Linked DNA regions of Homo sapiens: region 2 is linked to region 1. The links come from fine-mapping of genetic effects on gene expression. A gene starts in region 1. The other region holds a variant in brackets. All regions are shown on one strand. Distances are from middle to middle.

What was found.
Region 2: its variant is fine-mapped to the expression of GAD1 in tibial artery (GTEx, PIP above 0.99). The same link has a PIP of 0.9 or more in aorta and coronary artery.

What each region holds. Positions count from the first base shown.
Region 1 is chr2:170,812,102-170,820,434 of GRCh38, forward strand. It overlaps GAD1 (glutamate decarboxylase 1), which reads left to right and starts at 4,786. Exons shown (of 17, transcript NM_000817.3): 1 at 4,786-4,947; 2 at 6,428-6,572. The coding sequence starts at 6,491. It overlaps GAD1-AS1 (GAD1 antisense RNA 1), which reads right to left and starts at 6,550. Exons shown (of 4, transcript NR_197761.1): 1 at 6,285-6,550; 2 at 5,617-5,814; 3 at 4,753-4,931; 4 at 2,522-4,384. RefSeq lists a silencer at 4,601-4,680 and enhancers at 4,768-4,937, 6,177-6,700, 6,701-7,223.
Region 2 is chr2:170,374,255-170,382,587 of GRCh38, forward strand. MYO3B (myosin IIIB) reads left to right here. Exons shown (of 35, transcript NM_138995.5): 10 at 7,762-7,858. Among named protein-coding and RNA genes, the nearest start is that of MYO3B-AS1, 27 kb to the left of the region's middle. The variant C/G (reference allele first, on the strand shown) is at 3,471.

The sequences.
Region 1 (8,333 bases):
TGTATTCGTCAGCTATTGTCACAATATTTGATATAGTTTGGATGTTTGTCCTCTCTAATCTCGTGCTGAAATGTGACCCCCAATGTTGAAGGTGGGGCCTAATGGGAACGGCAATCAATCATGCACCCCTTCTGTTAAAGTTCCAGTTTCCTCCCCTGAGTAACTGGTCAGGATTAGGGGAAGAAACCTGGCCTGGAATAGAAGTTTAAGTTATTAGATTCGCCACAACTAAGTCAGAACTTTCCAGAACCTTTTCACAAACAACAGTCCCAGATACCTATGTTTGAAAATGGGGACTAAATATCTGTTATTTTAAGTAGTCCAAGAGCTTTTACACTAAAAGAAATGAATAAAATATTACTCTCCTCAGTCTCCCATGAATTCTGTATTTCACTAAAGCATCTCAGGTGGGAAATCCTCCTTTTTGCATCCCACCCTTTTGGGGAAGGACTGATTTCGCCTTGGTTTTTGTTGAGATCAGAAGACACAGATATACCTTTAAAGCTCCCCATCAGAATTACAATCCAGAACTGTATTTCCTTGGTTTCCAGTTTTGCAGTGAATCAGTTTCTTGCCTAATATTCACAGGTTCACTACATTTGAGACACAGCTAGGTGGGAAAAAAACAGATGCCATGCACCCCCTAGTCTTTCACCAAAGAGACGCACTACCCTAGGTGTTTCAGGTCACTTCCAGAGCACTTCTGACCATTTGAAAAGGCCCTGCTTTGTGAAATTTGGCAGGGATGAGTATGAGCCTGCATTCTTCCTTGAAGAACTGCTCCCTTGGGAGGCCTGTTGTTTCTTCTCAGAAATTGTAATCTATTGCCACCTGGTGGTCATTCTGTCTTCGAGTTTAGAATAGCAAGAATTGGACGTTTCAAGATTTGCACAAGGAGATTTGCCCAAACACAAATCACCCTGTCCTCCTTGATTCATTTATTTGTATTAGAATATTTTCATCTTCTGACTATCAAGGGGGAAGGACCATTTGCCAGTTATCCGAAGAATCCAGCTCTCTTCTTTAGAAAAAGTGGCTGTAATTCCTAGAGTCCTCTCCAGCCTTCCAGCATTCTGCTGTCACCCCTCCCACCCCCTCTCACCCTTTTAACATTTTCCTGCCTCCCAGCTGTGAGTGTTGTGTGGTCTGTTGGGATGGGGGTGTGGATTTAGCTATGATCCTTCAAAAAAGTCCAGAATAATTCAGGGAACTATCTTTAAAGTACAAAAACAGCAAATGGACCTTAGCTCCGACTTAAGCAGAATGAAAGGTTAAGTAACGCTTCCCCCAGTTCTCGTCTCGGGAGACAGACGTTTAACCGGTGAGCACTGCCATTTTTTTTTTCCTTTCTGGTCATAAATTAGACACTTAAAATAGATTTTAAGGAGCCAGCTGAAACGAACCAATACCATGGCTCTAAATTACGTTTCCTGGAGGCTAAAAATTCTAATTGCGTCAAAAAAAATTGACGTGTCCTGTCTACTCACCTTGACTGACCACGTTTTAGGCGTGAAGATCTCCCCGCAGCCCGTTTGGGCGCTCCTTCAACGCCTCACGCTCCTCCTACTCACCCGTTTTTCCCTTTGCAGAAAAGGCTTGGCCCCAAATCCGGTTGGAATATCTTTAAACAATCCCCCACCCACCCACGACGGGGAAAGGAATAAAGGGCATTGTGGGCGGAGGGTCGTGTTCCCAAGTCCCAGCGGTGGTTGACCTAAGGAAACGTTATCCTCGGCAGACAGGGTGGAGTAGCCGGGGCTGCAAGCTCGCAAATCCCTAATGCCGGAGAGAGACTGGAGGGGTCGCATATCGCCCCCTCCTTCTTCTGCCTTTGAGCGCCGCGTTCCCATTTCTTCAAAGCGCTTCAAATACAATCGAAACAGCTGGGCGGACACCACTCCCTTCCGGGCCACCCCTCATCACCGGTTCGAGTCCCCGGAGAGGATATCTTTTTTCCACCCCCATTATCCCAAGAATCCTCCCCCAGGAATGATAAAAGATTAAAGGAAGAGTGAAAGACATAAACAAAAATATAGGTTTCAAATGTTGTTTAGAGCCGAATGACAACCACGGCCACTCTTAGTTCAAATTCCTACCGGAGAGAAGAGCAGTGGGCGAAATACCTCACCCCCCAACTAGGCAAAACAAACAGCAGTTACTGTCAGGAGGGAGGAGGGCTGGGGCGAGTCTGGTGGGTTGGCCCATAGCTATTGGCGGAAGCAAACGAAACAGAGGCATGGGGACCAGAAGGACGGGCGCTGTCCTTCGTGCTGAAAGATCTATGCCCTACCTCAAAACTCAGTAATCTGGATGGAGTGGAATTCCAGGCCTTCAATTCATTACCATTCCTGCTGTGCCCAAGAGTTCGAGTTGGAGGAGATCATTGAAAATTAAATCAAATTTATGAAGTTTCTAAGTGCGCTCCTCTCCCTGCCTCACCGGAATGTCCACTCCCGGCGTGCAGGATAATATAAACCGCAGGGACAATGCAAGCTCCAAAAAATAAGTGCTTGGCACATAGTAGGGGATTAATAAATATTCGTTTAATCAATTACTGCTAATATTCAATTAAACATTCTAAACAAGGACGGACAAAAGTCTTCATTCCTCCCCTACTCACCATAAAGGAGAAAGAGAGGGATGTCCTCGAAGCTGGACGGACTCAGCTTCAGCTTGCGTTACCTAGCCTTGCAGGAGATTCCTTCTCCAACGAGATTATTTCATTGGCTAAAACGTTAGGGGTGTTTTGAACTCTGGGGTCAAAGGAGGAAGTGGTTGGAAATGTCTCAATCTCGTGCCACAGGTGAAGTAAACGAATCTTCCTTTCCAGGGAATCACGGGTTTTGGGAAAAGGTTGAGGCGAGCGGGCGTCTATGCTGGACAATGAAGAACGAGGGGCACCGGGAGATGTGTTGCCTCCTCCTTCCTGTCTCCTGCCCCGTGCGTCTTGAATGATTTAGCACTGGCACCTGGCTCCCTGATTGGTGCGAGCGTCTCGTTTAGGGAAGGCTCTAGGAGGGCCGGTGGATGGAATTCCGAGCTTCACCTGGTTGTATGCCGCCCACTTCAAGCAGCGCAGAGCAGCTGCCGGTTGAGTGGTTTGGGGGGACGTTTCCTACGTGGAGCAGACACCCCCAGCCTGTCCAGCCCCAAGCCTCAGTGCCCGGGGCTGCAGTCACCGCGCGCCCCGCCGTTTAGGATGTTTTTTGTGTCCTTAAAAAGTGCCGGGGATTTCATCGTCAGGTGGAGACAAGGCGACAAAACAGTAGTTTCTTTAGTACCAAAGGCAACGCGATTATTTCAAACCCCACAGCGAGATCCCTCTTGCTGATCAGGCCATGTCTGCCCAGGGCGGACCCTTCGATCTCCCTTATGGAACTCTCGGTAATTTATAATATTTTTGTGTGTGTTTCCATTGTGTTGTGGTGAAAGGCGATAAGGCATTCAAAGAAAACGGACGGGCCTCCGCTGAACCAGTGAGGCCCCAGACGTGCGCATAAATAACCCCTGCGTGCTGCACCACCTGGGGAGAGGGGGAGGACCACGGTAAATACCAGTAAAGGAATCACTGCCTACACGGTGTCACCCAGACACGCACAGACATCAACATTTTTGCCCTAAAGAAAAAAACTGGGGGAGAAGAAAGGGGAGAACTTAAACTAGTGACAGGGCGGTGAGGGAAGGCATGAAGAGGCAAGCCGGCGCGTAACCGTCTGGCCAGCAGCTCCAGGTGTGGGCTCCGCTCGGGCGCTGGCGGAGAGACCCGGGAGCGCAGGGCCTCTCCGTCTCTGGGCTCTTGGCGCCCTCTGGTGGGAATTTCTCTTTCAACGCATTTTTACGGCGAGGGGCTTCTCCCAACGCAGCGGTTCTTTTAACTACGCCTAAATATTGCAAAGGGAGAATCCTTAAAGCGCGTGAAATCGAAGGGGGAGCGGGCCAGGGCAAGGGGGGCTGGTCCGCCCCTTCCGGGCACCTCTGTGCTCGGGTGCCCCATGCGCGTGCAGCGGCGCTCGTGCGTGTCATCAACCTTCAAACGTGATTAATCAGGAGGCCTTCTTTTCCCATCACCAAGGGGGCCAAAGCGAGGAGCGAGCGCATAGCAAAAGGGACGCGGGGTCCTTTTCTCTGCCGGTGGCACTGGGTAGCTGTGGCCAGGTGTGGTACTTTGATGGGGCCCAGGGCTGGATGAGGAAACTGTAATTCCTCCATGGTCTAAGAGGTCTCCCCTCATTTCTGCCTCCTTTGCGGTTACAACAATCCCAGCTCCGTAGAGAGCCAACGAGGACACGACCCAAAGCGCGCTTTCGCTCAAGGAAGCGTCGCAGGGTCACAGATCTGGGGGAACCCCGGGGAAAAGCACTGAGGCAAAACCGCCGCTCGTCTCCTACAATATATGGGAGGGGGAGGGGAAATGGGAGAGGGGAAAGGAGGGGAGGGAAGAAGAAACGCTCAGAAAGGCAGAATTCTTCGTAGGAATTATCTTTTCCCTCCTCTCACCCGACAGCCTGCCTATTTCCAAAGGAAAAAAAAAAAGCGTGTTGAGTACGTTCTGGATTACTCATAAGACCTTTTTTTTTTCCTTCCGGGCGCAAAACCGTGAGCTGGATTTATAATCGCCCTATAAAGCTCCAGAGGCGGTCAGGCACCTGCAGAGGAGCCCCGCCGCTCCGCCGACTAGCTGCCCCCGCGAGCAACGGCCTCGTGATTTCCCCGCCGATCCGGTCCCCGCCTCCCCACTCTGCCCCCGCCTACCCCGGAGCCGTGCAGCCGCCTCTCCGAATCTCTCTCTTCTCCTGGCGCTCGCGTGCGAGAGGGAACTAGCGAGAACGAGGAAGCAGCTGGAGGTGACGCCGGGCAGATTACGCCTGTCAGGGCCGAGCCGAGCGGATCGCTGGGCGCTGTGCAGAGGAAAGGCGGGAGTGCCCGGCTCGCTGTCGCAGAGCCGAGGTGGGTAAGCTAGCGACCACCTGGACTTCCCAGCGCCCAACCGTGGCTTTTCAGCCAGGTCCTCTCCTCCCGCGGCTTCTCAACCAACCCCATCCCAGCGCCGGCCACCCAACCTCCCGAAATGAGTGCTTCCTGCCCGCCCTAGTCCCTGCTCTCCACGGGTGCGCTGCGCAGGGACCCCCCCCCCCCCGCCTCCCTCGTCACTCTTCTTATCCCTGCCCTCCGGATTCACGCCCCGGGGAAGCACGGAGGCTGAGGCTCTAGTTGAAGTGGGGCAAGAGCGATTTTCCCTTGAGCTTCCATGCTGCGAGCGCCTGTCCCTCCAAAGGGCGCCTGGGCAGCAGCAGCCGAAGGCGCTACTAGGAACGGTAACCTGTTACTTTTCCAGGGGCCGTAGTCGACCCGCTGCCCGAGTTGCTGTGCGACTGCGCGCGCGGGGCTAGGAGTGAGGTCGGAGGGAGGGTGTGGAGGCGATGGCCGGTGGGCCCTTCTCTGTGGGGTCCTCGATCTACCCAGATTAGCCCGCAATCTCTCTGTCCCGGGGCCTTCGGGCGCCATCGCGCCAGCGCCGAGAGTCGAGCAGGGGCGCCGCGCAAGATCTTTGTCCGCCGCCTCCTGCGCGCTGCGCGCAAGTTCGTTTCCCCGGTGACGTTCCCCATGCTTACTTACCCCACCCTCTCTGGATCTGTACCGCGAGAAATCTGGGGTCCTCAGGGGGCTAGGTAGAGGAGAAACGCTGAAACCGGACCGAAACCTCGCCCTAGGCTTAGCGATGGCTAAAAACCGGCTGGGATAAGAGGGAGGCAAGCAACATTCCGACTCGCTGCTTTCTGGCTGTCTGGAGTGCAAGGTGACTGTGGTTCTTCTCTGGCCAAGTCCGAGGGAGAACGTAAAGATATGGGCCTTTTTCCCCCTCTCACCTTGTCTCACCAAAGTCCCTAGTCCCCGGAGCAGTTAGCCTCTTTCTTTCCAGGGAATTAGCCAGACACAACAACGGGAACCAGACACCGAACCAGACATGCCCGCCCCGTGCGCCCTCCCCCCGCTGGCCCACACGCCGGCTGCTGAGTGCCCAATGGGGCTTGTAGCGGCTCGGCTGGAAAATCGCTCACTGAGCGCTCCCCTGTGCTCCTAGCCTAGTCCCCCACACCCTTGCGTCTTGTACTGGCCTTGGACCCCCACCCCGACCCCGACCCCGCCTCGTCTCGGCGCTTCACTCCAGGTCGCGCCGATGCACCGCCAGACTCGAGAGCGGCCCAGGGCTACGCTCCCTGCGCCCCAGTACCGGAGCTAGCGCGCACGTCTCCTCCGCTGCCCCCACCCCTGCGCACCCCTACCAGGCAGGCTCGCTGCCTTTCCTCCCTCTTGTCTCTCCAGAGCCGGATCTTCAAGGGGAGCCTCCGTGCCCCCGGCTGCTCAGTCCCTCCGGTGTGCAGGACCCCGGAAGTCCTCCCCGCACAGCTCTCGCTTCTCTTTGCAGCCTGTTTCTGCGCCGGACCAGTCGAGGACTCTGGACAGTAGAGGCCCCGGGACGACCGAGCTGATGGCGTCTTCGACCCCATCTTCGTCCGCAACCTCCTCGAACGCGGGAGCGGACCCCAATACCACTAACCTGCGCCCCACAAGTAGGTCCCGCCCCAATTTTCTATCAAATGAACTGCAGGGAAGATGGGGGCGCTGGGACGTCGGGAGGCTGAGCTGGCGGAAAGGGAAGGGGGAGCGCGGAGATAATGGAGGCTGGGAAATAAATGGGGCTCTGACCCCGTCCCTGCCAGAGGTCATTCGGCTGTCAGGGACGCTAGGTGACTCCCAGGGCACCGGAAAGCGAGGACCACGCAAGGTCCGAGCAGCGGCGATCGTTGAGGGCTTCGCGGAGGAGGAGGGGCGCGCAGCCAGGGTGTTGTTTTTATTCTGTTGTGTGTGGTTTCTTTGCTCCGTGGGACGACAGGGGTCAGCGCAGGGGGCGGAATGAAGAGCTAGGAGCCCCAGCAGGAATAAGAGTTTTCAGTCCCCGGCTTTCGTTGAGCCAAGATCTGACCTCCTCCTTTCCCCCTGGGCTGTGTTCAAAGTCTATAATCAGCGGAAATTTCGACGTTAATTGCAGCTTTTAGAAAACTCAAGGTCCCTAATTGCTCCAAATTTGCATCAAGCTATTGACGAGTTAGGGAGAAGTCAGGGGCGGGAAAGGTGCATAAAACTGAGACTGAGCCTTGACATTTCATACAATTAATTACATCTCAGAGAAATAAATAAATAAATAAATAAATAGGGGAGCGGGCGGCATCCTGAGTGGCAAGAGATGGGGAACTGGGAGGGGGCAAGAAGCTTTATCATAGAGAGGAGAGAGCACCTCTCTCCTTATCCCAGGCAAGAGATCTGTCAGGAGGTGACATGTCCCGAAAAGAGAGAAAGAAAAGAGACACCAGATAAAAGAGGGGGGAGGATTTATGCTTCCCTGTCTTAAGTGCGACAGGCTCCTCAACCCATTTCCAGAATCTATCTTTAATTTTATTTCCTACCTCTGTAAAGGCTTGAGATGAGAAAATTGTTTTTCTTTTTCCTTGTTGGAGTGAAGAAGTGTCTCCTGACCCCACCCCCCTAAAAAAACTTATCAGCTTCAGACTGTAAGTGTTCCCACTCCCCCATTTATTTATTTCTGAGATGTAATTAATTGTATGAATTTCCAGAATTTGTATACAGAAAGGGCTTAAGAAGGATAGTGTGGTTACAGGGAGTGCTTATTGATGCGCTTTTATGGCACTTTATATTTGAGAAAATAAGTATCCTCATCAATGAAGTGGGGATTATTACCGGAAAGCCCCTTTAGACGCTGGCATTGGCTCCCGGGCAGGAGGTCTCGTGTTAAGTCCTCAGGTCTCATTCCAATTTCCTTTGCAGCTCCCTCTTCCCGCCACCCAGGAGGGATACAATTACCCACACAACAAAGAGGGCCTCGGGAGAGTCGCCAGCCCTGGTAGCATATGAACCAGGCACCGGCGTTGGAGCTGGCCAGGGCAGGGCGGGAGGAACGCGAGGCCTGCGCGCCTTTGTGTGGTGCTTTCGCCTTGATGGATTTCTTTTCTGACGCTTTCCACATTTCCCGCTCCCTTTTGCCGCCTGGGGGTGGGGGTGGGGGGTTAGCGGGCAGTTGTGTTAATTTGCCCTCCACTCCCGGCGCCCTTACGGAATTCCCGGTGGCCGCCAGTCGCCGGCGCAAATGCCAAGTCACCGGTAGGAGACACAACAGAGGCGATGACCTGAATCCGCACGTGGCCTGGTTCGCCTGGAAGCTGCCAAAGCGAAGGCAAGAGAGCCCGGGACCCTGCTGTAAAACAGCAAGCAGCACGTGTCCCAGGCACACTGTTGCGGGCCCTTAGCCTAGCTAC
Region 2 (8,333 bases), 440 kb before region 1:
AGTGGCCTTGGGATCTTTGTGGGTAGGGAAGAAAGTGACACCAGACTGGCTTATTGACTTTGAGGCTGATCTAGTCCTGGGACTGGCTATTACAACAAAGATGAAGAGCAGATTCAGTGAGGGGATGATGAGAAAAGGGATTGTAGAACTGAGATCCTAGGAACTTTTGATAGATAATTAGGAACTAAGGATAGCTGAGCTTGTGGGCAACTTCGGTGGAATAGAAAGAAATGTTTTTTAAGTGTTGACAGGTTGAGGAACTCTTAGATCAGATCCATCTCAGTTATGGCACATATTCAAGAGTATTCAAAAACAAGGCTAAGAATCATGGAGGGCTTGTTCACATAGAGCAGAAGCTGTACTGTGCTTGGAGGGCTTGAATTTGTAAGTCCCCTGTCTCACCTCTCCTGGGTCTAACCATTCAGGCTTTTCTGAGTGCTTTTTGGAAAGCCAGGATGTGATTCATCCCTATTTCACTCTCTCTATATATATATATGCATACATACACACACACACACACACACACACACACACACACACACACACTACAGATATAGATACAGGACAGCAGAGGCACCTGTGGAGAAGTGATATTGTACTATTTGAGATTTGATAGATACCATTACCTGATGCTGATTATAGTGTATGTATGACATCATTGGAATTTAAGTTTTTCCAGTAAATTATAATTGTGCCAATGCATGTATTTGATTCAGGTACAATAGAGCAGTTATTAATCCAAGTCTTACTCTTTTAAAGGAGTAAGCCCTAAAGGGCTAAAGAAGCCCTAAAACTATGTGAACAATGGGCTGAAAGTACATTGTTACTTCATCTGTTGGAGGTGTTTTTAAACTATTTGGTCATTTCCTTTATATCAGCACCTATTTCCTTGATCTGCAAAAAGACGACTTCTTCCCCAAACCAGTTTTGCAAATCCCTGAATTCATTAGTATCATCTGGTATGTCATCTCACTGTTAAAGTTCAGAGAAGTAGATTGAAAACATGCTTTGTATCATTTTACAAGGGTTATTGGGAGAAGAGTGAAACCACTCTCTGGAATGTGAGTGGAGGCAGGGAAAGGACTCGATTGTCTCTGCCACGACCATGAACTCAACCGTGAACCTCAGTAAAATTACAAGATCCAGCATGCCGTGCCCCTGCAGGTGGCTTGGTACTAGCTGAAACCACAGATGTTAAACCCTAAATGCCAAGGGTCTGTTCTAAGTATTACTTGGTAGAAGAATTAAGTTGCTGGGTTTTTTTTTTTTCTGCTCTGTTTAATGGGTTGTCATGTCGCCCTTGCAATTTGCCTGAGGCTGATTAAAACAATGACTTCAGCTTTTGATTTCTTTTCAACCTGCAGCAATGACCTTTAAAAACAGATTTCTCACTATTTAACTGCTAGTTTTCCCCAGTAATCCTTGCTCACTCTCTCCCTCTTCTACCTTCAAATATGTGCATGCATGCACACACACACACACACACACACAGAGCACCCCATATTATATACACTAATGGGTTATTGGGTTCTTATGTAAATAAGTAACTCCAGAAAGATTACTTCATAAAGTGCTGAAGAAGCTTAACACACAGGAGGTTAAATATCCTTTTATCTTCCTAACAGAAGAAATAAATCTATACCTTGCTATAATTAGTATCTGCTATCTATCTATACCTATATCTGTCTATCTACAAATGAGTAAGTTAGTTAATATTAATTTTATGCTGGTGTTACTGATTCTTGCCGCTTAGAGAAGTTGGGTATATCAAATACTGTTTAATATGATTAATGATAAGATGCTGATTTATTGGGATTCTGGCCAAAACGGTGCTTAGATGAAAAATGGGCAGATACTATAATAATTTCCACCCAAACAATTCTCCTATTTTAAAATTTATGCATTGTATTGTTTGAAAGACATAGCCTTAAGTTCAGGGTCAAGATACAGCTCATGTAGTTAAAGGTATCCAGCTGCTATCTCTGTCCATATTTGACTCTCAGTAGAATAATGTCATTCCTCAAAGGTCTGCTATTGTTTTTCTCGTTTGAGGTCCATTATTATATAGTTACGGTAAAATAAAAGTCCCTCTTTCATTGGCTCTGTTATCAAAGGGTATATTGAATGGAAATTAAGATTTAGAAGAAATATTCAACATCACTGACCTTGGTGTAGTAACAGTACTCTATTCTCAGTTTTGAGTAATGTTTTCTTTCTTGTATGGAATCCATTGAATGTAGTGATAAGGGAGTGATCCCTGAGTTCTCTCTATGGCCATGGAGGCTTTTGTCCTAGATTCTTGAGGACTGACATCTTTGAGCCTGCACCTTTTTCCTTATTCCCTCTCTCTATTTTTTTTTTTGCCTCTATCCGCAACAAATTTTACTTCCTTTTCCATCTGGAATCTGGTAACAGTGATAGTCATTCTCCACTTTTTGCAGTTCCACTCTTGGACGGAGGAGAGGGTTCTTATCCTGGGTGTGGAGGAGCAGAGGCAGAGGTGACCTTCACAATGGTGCTGACACAGGGTGACTCTCTAAGAAGCCAGCAGGCATTTCTCAGTGCAGAGATTAACTTCTTAGGAGTATATTGCTTGTTGTTATTATTATTAGGCTGAATTGATAAGCTAGAAGAATTTGTTTCCTTCTCATGTTTGAGTTATGATTTAGAGCACCTTTTTCTATTACTTGTTCTTCATCATAGTTGGGGAGTGAAAGGAAGAGCGTATCCTGTCTCACCTACGTGAAGTTCTTGCAGCTCTGTTTGTACCTACCTACATGGAAGCCTCCACTTCCATAGGCATAACTGGCAGACAGAAAGAGGCTAATTGATTAATGAGTCACTTTTGGGCAAAATATGTTTGTCAATATAGTTCATAGGACTAGCAGCTCAAACAAAGAAGCTAGCAGGCCCAGTGATGAGATATTAGAGAACAATGACACAGAAATGGTTTTAACCATAATGCAGATACAGAGATTAAACTAGAGTGAAAGCTGCAACACTTTAGGAGTTTATTTCATGAGAATAATTCTTCTAGTGTTTAAACCAGTTTGGTGTCCTCTAAAGCTCCTTTCCCACTCATTGGCTGGGCCAAAGATTTGAACAAAGACCCCCATCCTCTACCTCATCTATGCCCACTGTTGTCTTAGGGGAACTCCCAGCCTCTACCTCTGGCTCTGTCTTTCCCGTTCTTCAGATTCTATTCTTACGCTGCACTCATTTCCTTGGACTTGATGGTACAGACTTGCCCTCATTCCCACCCTACTTGATCCATGGATTCAGGCACCAGTTTCCCCTTTACCTGATCCCTGAAACCTAAGGCCCGTCCTGCTCTCCACAGTCTCCCGCTCCACTGCCACACCAAAAGCAAACTCCAGGAACCAGTCCAAGCCAAGACTTTCCCTCTAAGCTCCAACTCGCAAACTCTGTTTGTCTGAGAAGCCAGCCTTGGCAGCCAACATACTTACAAA[C/G]TCATAAAAACAAGTAGGAAATCTAAGAAAAGCAATATAAACTTTACTGGAATTTGAAAACGTCTTCTGAGCCATTAAAACTACAGTGCCTTACCACATACTTTTGATTTAGTAGAATGTTTTTTGCTGTTTATCCATTCATTTATCTATGTCTCCATTCCTCTGAGCTTTGGAATACTCGATCCAAGTAGCTTTTAGTTGGAGATCTGTAATTTTCACATTAAACGAGGAATTCTTCAGCAAAAATTGATAATAGGTCCTATTCTCAAGTAGGGCACTAGATGGAGCATGTGAATTTAAAGGAAATTAAGATCTATAGTTACTAATGACACAAATCACTTAACTCAATAAAATTAAAAAAATAAACCAAGTTTATTTTTATTAATTTCAACTAAAAATAGAGAAATATAAAACAACGTAACGCTTTTTATAAGCTTATGCAAAGTCTAGGAAAATGTTTTTAAAGGAGATAAAAATTGAAATAAATAATGCTTTTTCTCTACGATAGACCCTCCAAACCCCATAGCCAGAGGAGGAAAGTTAAGCGGGCAGCAGTTTCCAAAGAACACTAGTTGTGGAAGGCAGAAATAGTGCTACACATATATATATTTTTTCTGGTTGAGAAAACGAAGTGGTCTTTATCAGAGTAGAGAAGTCTTGCATCTACATCCACTTCTAGATTGCCTACTTCACTTTTAGGAGCAAATATTTCTAAAGAATTTGATCACCTGTAAGCATGGAAAGAGGCCACACATTGCTACTAATAGCAGTTAAAATTTTTAAAAAGTTATTTTTTGTTAATACAATATTATTGGGGAAGATTTTTTACAAGAATCAAGCTCAGATTTGCAGACAACATCTGCATGATTCTTGGAAGTTATATCTGTGAGACAGATTGGCATAGCACACAATCTCCTTCAGGCTCAGAAGATACCAATGTTGATCCTAGTGATATTGCATTGTGTATATTCACACTGAAAATTAAAACTTTCTACTAGACTGCATCTATTTGTGAGATTGCAAGTAAGGTTTGGTCCATGCTTCCATTTTTAGTTGGCTATAAAAATGTCATCCAATGTGAAGCTTGGCATTTCTGTATGCAGCTCAGGCTGCCATTAAATCCAGGTCAGGAGTTACTGAAGGAAAAAAAAGCCTGGAAAACTCACCATTGGTTCAGTGGTATTTTGAGTTCTGACTTCCTTCCCCAGTCTGCCTGTTACAATTTACTTCTCAGAGTCTTAAGATAGCTGCTCCATGCATTCTGACAAGGGTATTTAGTTGTCTTCAGTGAGGAGTGGAGAGGGCTTACTCCATCTTGACCAGAACCAGATCTGAGGTAATTTTTTAATTATTGATTTTCTTTGTCAAATGATGTGCAGAATATGCAATTATAAGATATAAATGTAGGAAGGAGACAAACTAGCTGAATTTAATATGGTAATTTAATTATTTCATGAAAATGTGGTACAATTTTTTTTTTTTTTTTTTTGAGACGGAATCTTGCTCTGTTGCCAGGTTGGCATGCAGTGGCTTGATCTCGGCTCACTGCAACCTCTGCCTCCCGGGTTCAAGCAATTCTCCTGCCTCAGCCTCCTGAGTAGCTGGGGCTACAGGCGTGCACCACCACGCCTAGCTAATTTTTGTATTTTTGGTAGAGACGGGATTTCACCATGTTGGCCAGGATGGTCTTAATCTCTTGACCTTGTGATCCACCCGCCTTGGCCGCCCAAAGTGCTGGGATTACAGGCGTGAACCACTGTACCCAGCCAGTATTTTGTTTTTTGATTAACTTCAAGCAAAATTATTCTTAGGTTTTATGTGAAGGGGATTTTGATCGGAAATATGTATCCTCCTGCTGTTTTATTTAACAAAATGGCTAGCTAGAGGCAGGCAGCAGCTCTGAGTTTTAGTAAAAATCTGTATTACAAACCAATTTGATTTTTCTTTGCCATCACCAATATGTAAAGTCACAGATAAATAATTCTGTTTAATAATTTTAAACTGCTTAGGTTATAAATTTGATTTGATTAAATAAAAATTAAGCTTCATTCTACTTTGGACCTTTATATGAATTAGCAGCAAAACTGGTTCTAGGACTGGAGATGACTAATAGCATGCTTCAAATATCTCTTTTCAAATTTATCAGTGATGGAGATTGAAAGGTAAGATTTAACTTAATAGGCTAGAAAGAGAGAAATCCATTTTATTTGGCCATTAATATTGCATTATAAACTCAAGACTCAATATGCAGAGCTGATAAGTTTGCTTCTTCCTTTTTACCTACTTTTGTGAAATGCATACCAAAGGGTGGGGTGTACATCAAGATTCCATGACTTCTAGCTGGTACTTACCATAAAACTTTCAGTCAACACCAGCTTCTAGGATCTAGCTAGATAGAATTGTATTGGTGGGTGATATCCTCATAAGCTGTGATGTTGATGGGCACAAAAGTGACAGAGAAGAATCAAGAAGTTATGCTTCTGGGCTAGTGAATTTACAGTATGTAGGACAGTTTATGTATGATTTTGTTTAGTCAATGATATTCAGAGTAATGTGTGTAGTTATGCAAATTGTTGATTCCAAATGTTAACAAGGATGTAAGAATAATAATTAGTACATGTTTTCAACTTTATTGCATTTTTATATCCATGACTATATGTGCTTTCACAGCTACCTGGGAGATAGACAGATCAGTTATGAGTAATTCTATTTATAGATGAAGAAAACCGATATACTGGCTGTTAAGGGATTTGCTGAGTGTCTCATACCACATTGCTCGCAACTCTGAAACTAGGGTCCAGAGCTCTTCTAGCCAATGCTTTCCTCCTAAACCGCATTGAGGAGTGATGAGTTTATGAAAGGAATTACGGGAAGGCCTACTTTGACCTTGAATTAATTTTAAACCTTAAAGAGCTATATTTTAGTATACCAGAGGGGATTATTACTGATTATCAAACAAGATTTTTAAATCCTTAGTGAACAGTGCCCTCCAGGAGAAAAACTCACATATATACACAAAAAGATGTGTATAAAGTTTTAAGTGTTGCATTATTACTAGTAGCAAAAAAATTGGAATCAGCCTAAATGTTGATCAACATAGGACTGAGTAGGCCGGGTGCAGTGGCATATGCCTGTAATCCCAGCACTTTGAGAGGCCAAGGTGGCAGGATCACTTGAAGCCAGAAGTTTGAGATTAGCCTGGACAACAAAGCAAAACTCCATCTCTACAAAAAATAATTTTAAAAAATTAGCCAGGCACAATAGTGCATACTTCTAGTACCAGCTAGTTGAGAGGCTGAGTGGGGAGGGTTGCTTGAGCCCAAGAGTTTGAGGCTGCAGTGAGCTATGACTATGCCACTGCATTTCAGCCTGGTGACAGAGCAAGACCCCATCTCTAAAAATTACTAAATAAATAAATAAAATTTTAAAAACAACAACCCCCCCCATCGGACTGAGTAAATAAATAGGTACATATTCATAAAGTATAATACTACCCAGTGATTAAAGTGACTGAACTAGGTAGGTAGGTAAGTGGGTAAGGTAGATAGGTAGATAGATAGATAAATAGAGTTTAAAAATCATAATGTTTAATGAAAAAAGTAAGCTTACAGTATAAAACCTAAGTATGATATCATTTTTATAACTAAACATACAGAACCTGTATATTGCTCATGGGTATCTATAGGCATATGACCAATATTTAAAAATAGACTGGAAGGAAACCCATCAAATAGTGGTCACCTCAGGAGAGAGGAGTGGGATGGGACAAGGGTCACAAAGGGATTTCACATGAATAAGAAAAAACATAAACAGTGATCAATTATTTGGTATTTACTATATTAATCTCTGAAAGTGTTACGTAGGTTAAAAACTATCACAAAAGTTGGGGGTGGTGCTGGTAGATAAAGCAAGGGGACCTCAAGGGAAGTAAGGCACTTATGGCTATACCCCAGTGAGAACTATGTGCCTGACACTGAGCAGAAGTCAGAGGTGTTTATTCTGGAAGTGCTGTCTTTGGCATTTAAGAAAAGCAAGTATGTGTATTAGGTGGGCCCATTTGGTAACACTCCTCACTCTGGCAGGAAGTAGACTTGAACTATGGAGATCACTTTATCCCAATAGTTCTACAGTGGCAGGAAAAGCCTGGGGACCTGGACTGGACTTCCTGTCCCTGTCTCTGAAGTCTCTGAACATATCACGTGATAAGATTGTGAATGAGCCATGCTTGCTGCCCGCTTTCTGCTACATTATTTGCTGTCTTAATGCTTAAACTCTCTTGATAAATTTCTAGGCATGAGAGGATGCATACCAGAAGACCTTATCATGTGGAAGATGCTGAAAAATACTGCCTTGAGGATGATTTGGTCAACCTAGAGGTTCTGGATGAGGTACTAAATATTTAGTAGACAATTCTCATTGAAGACATTTGTTTCATGTGAATGGTCTGAACTTTCTGTTGTAGACCATGTCCTCCTAAGGTCATTTGAAAATTTAATTGTTTGTGTAGCTATGGGATGAAGTTCAGGGAGCATTCAGTTGCTGTGACTATGATCCTGTGCTGTGTTTATTTAGATAGCCCCTAGAATGATGAAGAGAAAAGGATTTGGATTTTTGCAATAAAGCTCTTTATATTGTAGCCTTAATGATGGATTATATCAGCTGAAAATATTTTGTTTGATAAAATTTGATAAAATATTTCAATTAACCCTTAAGAAGTTGTTTGTTCTTCATAAGAAAGAGCTTCATTTAGGGAAATAGTGAAGTTAATATAGCTTGAATTCTAAATTTGAAGTCTGTGATAATCCCCATTTAAAATATGCATGTTTAATAGAGCTGTTAATTGCACTGGACCTGTTTATGCTG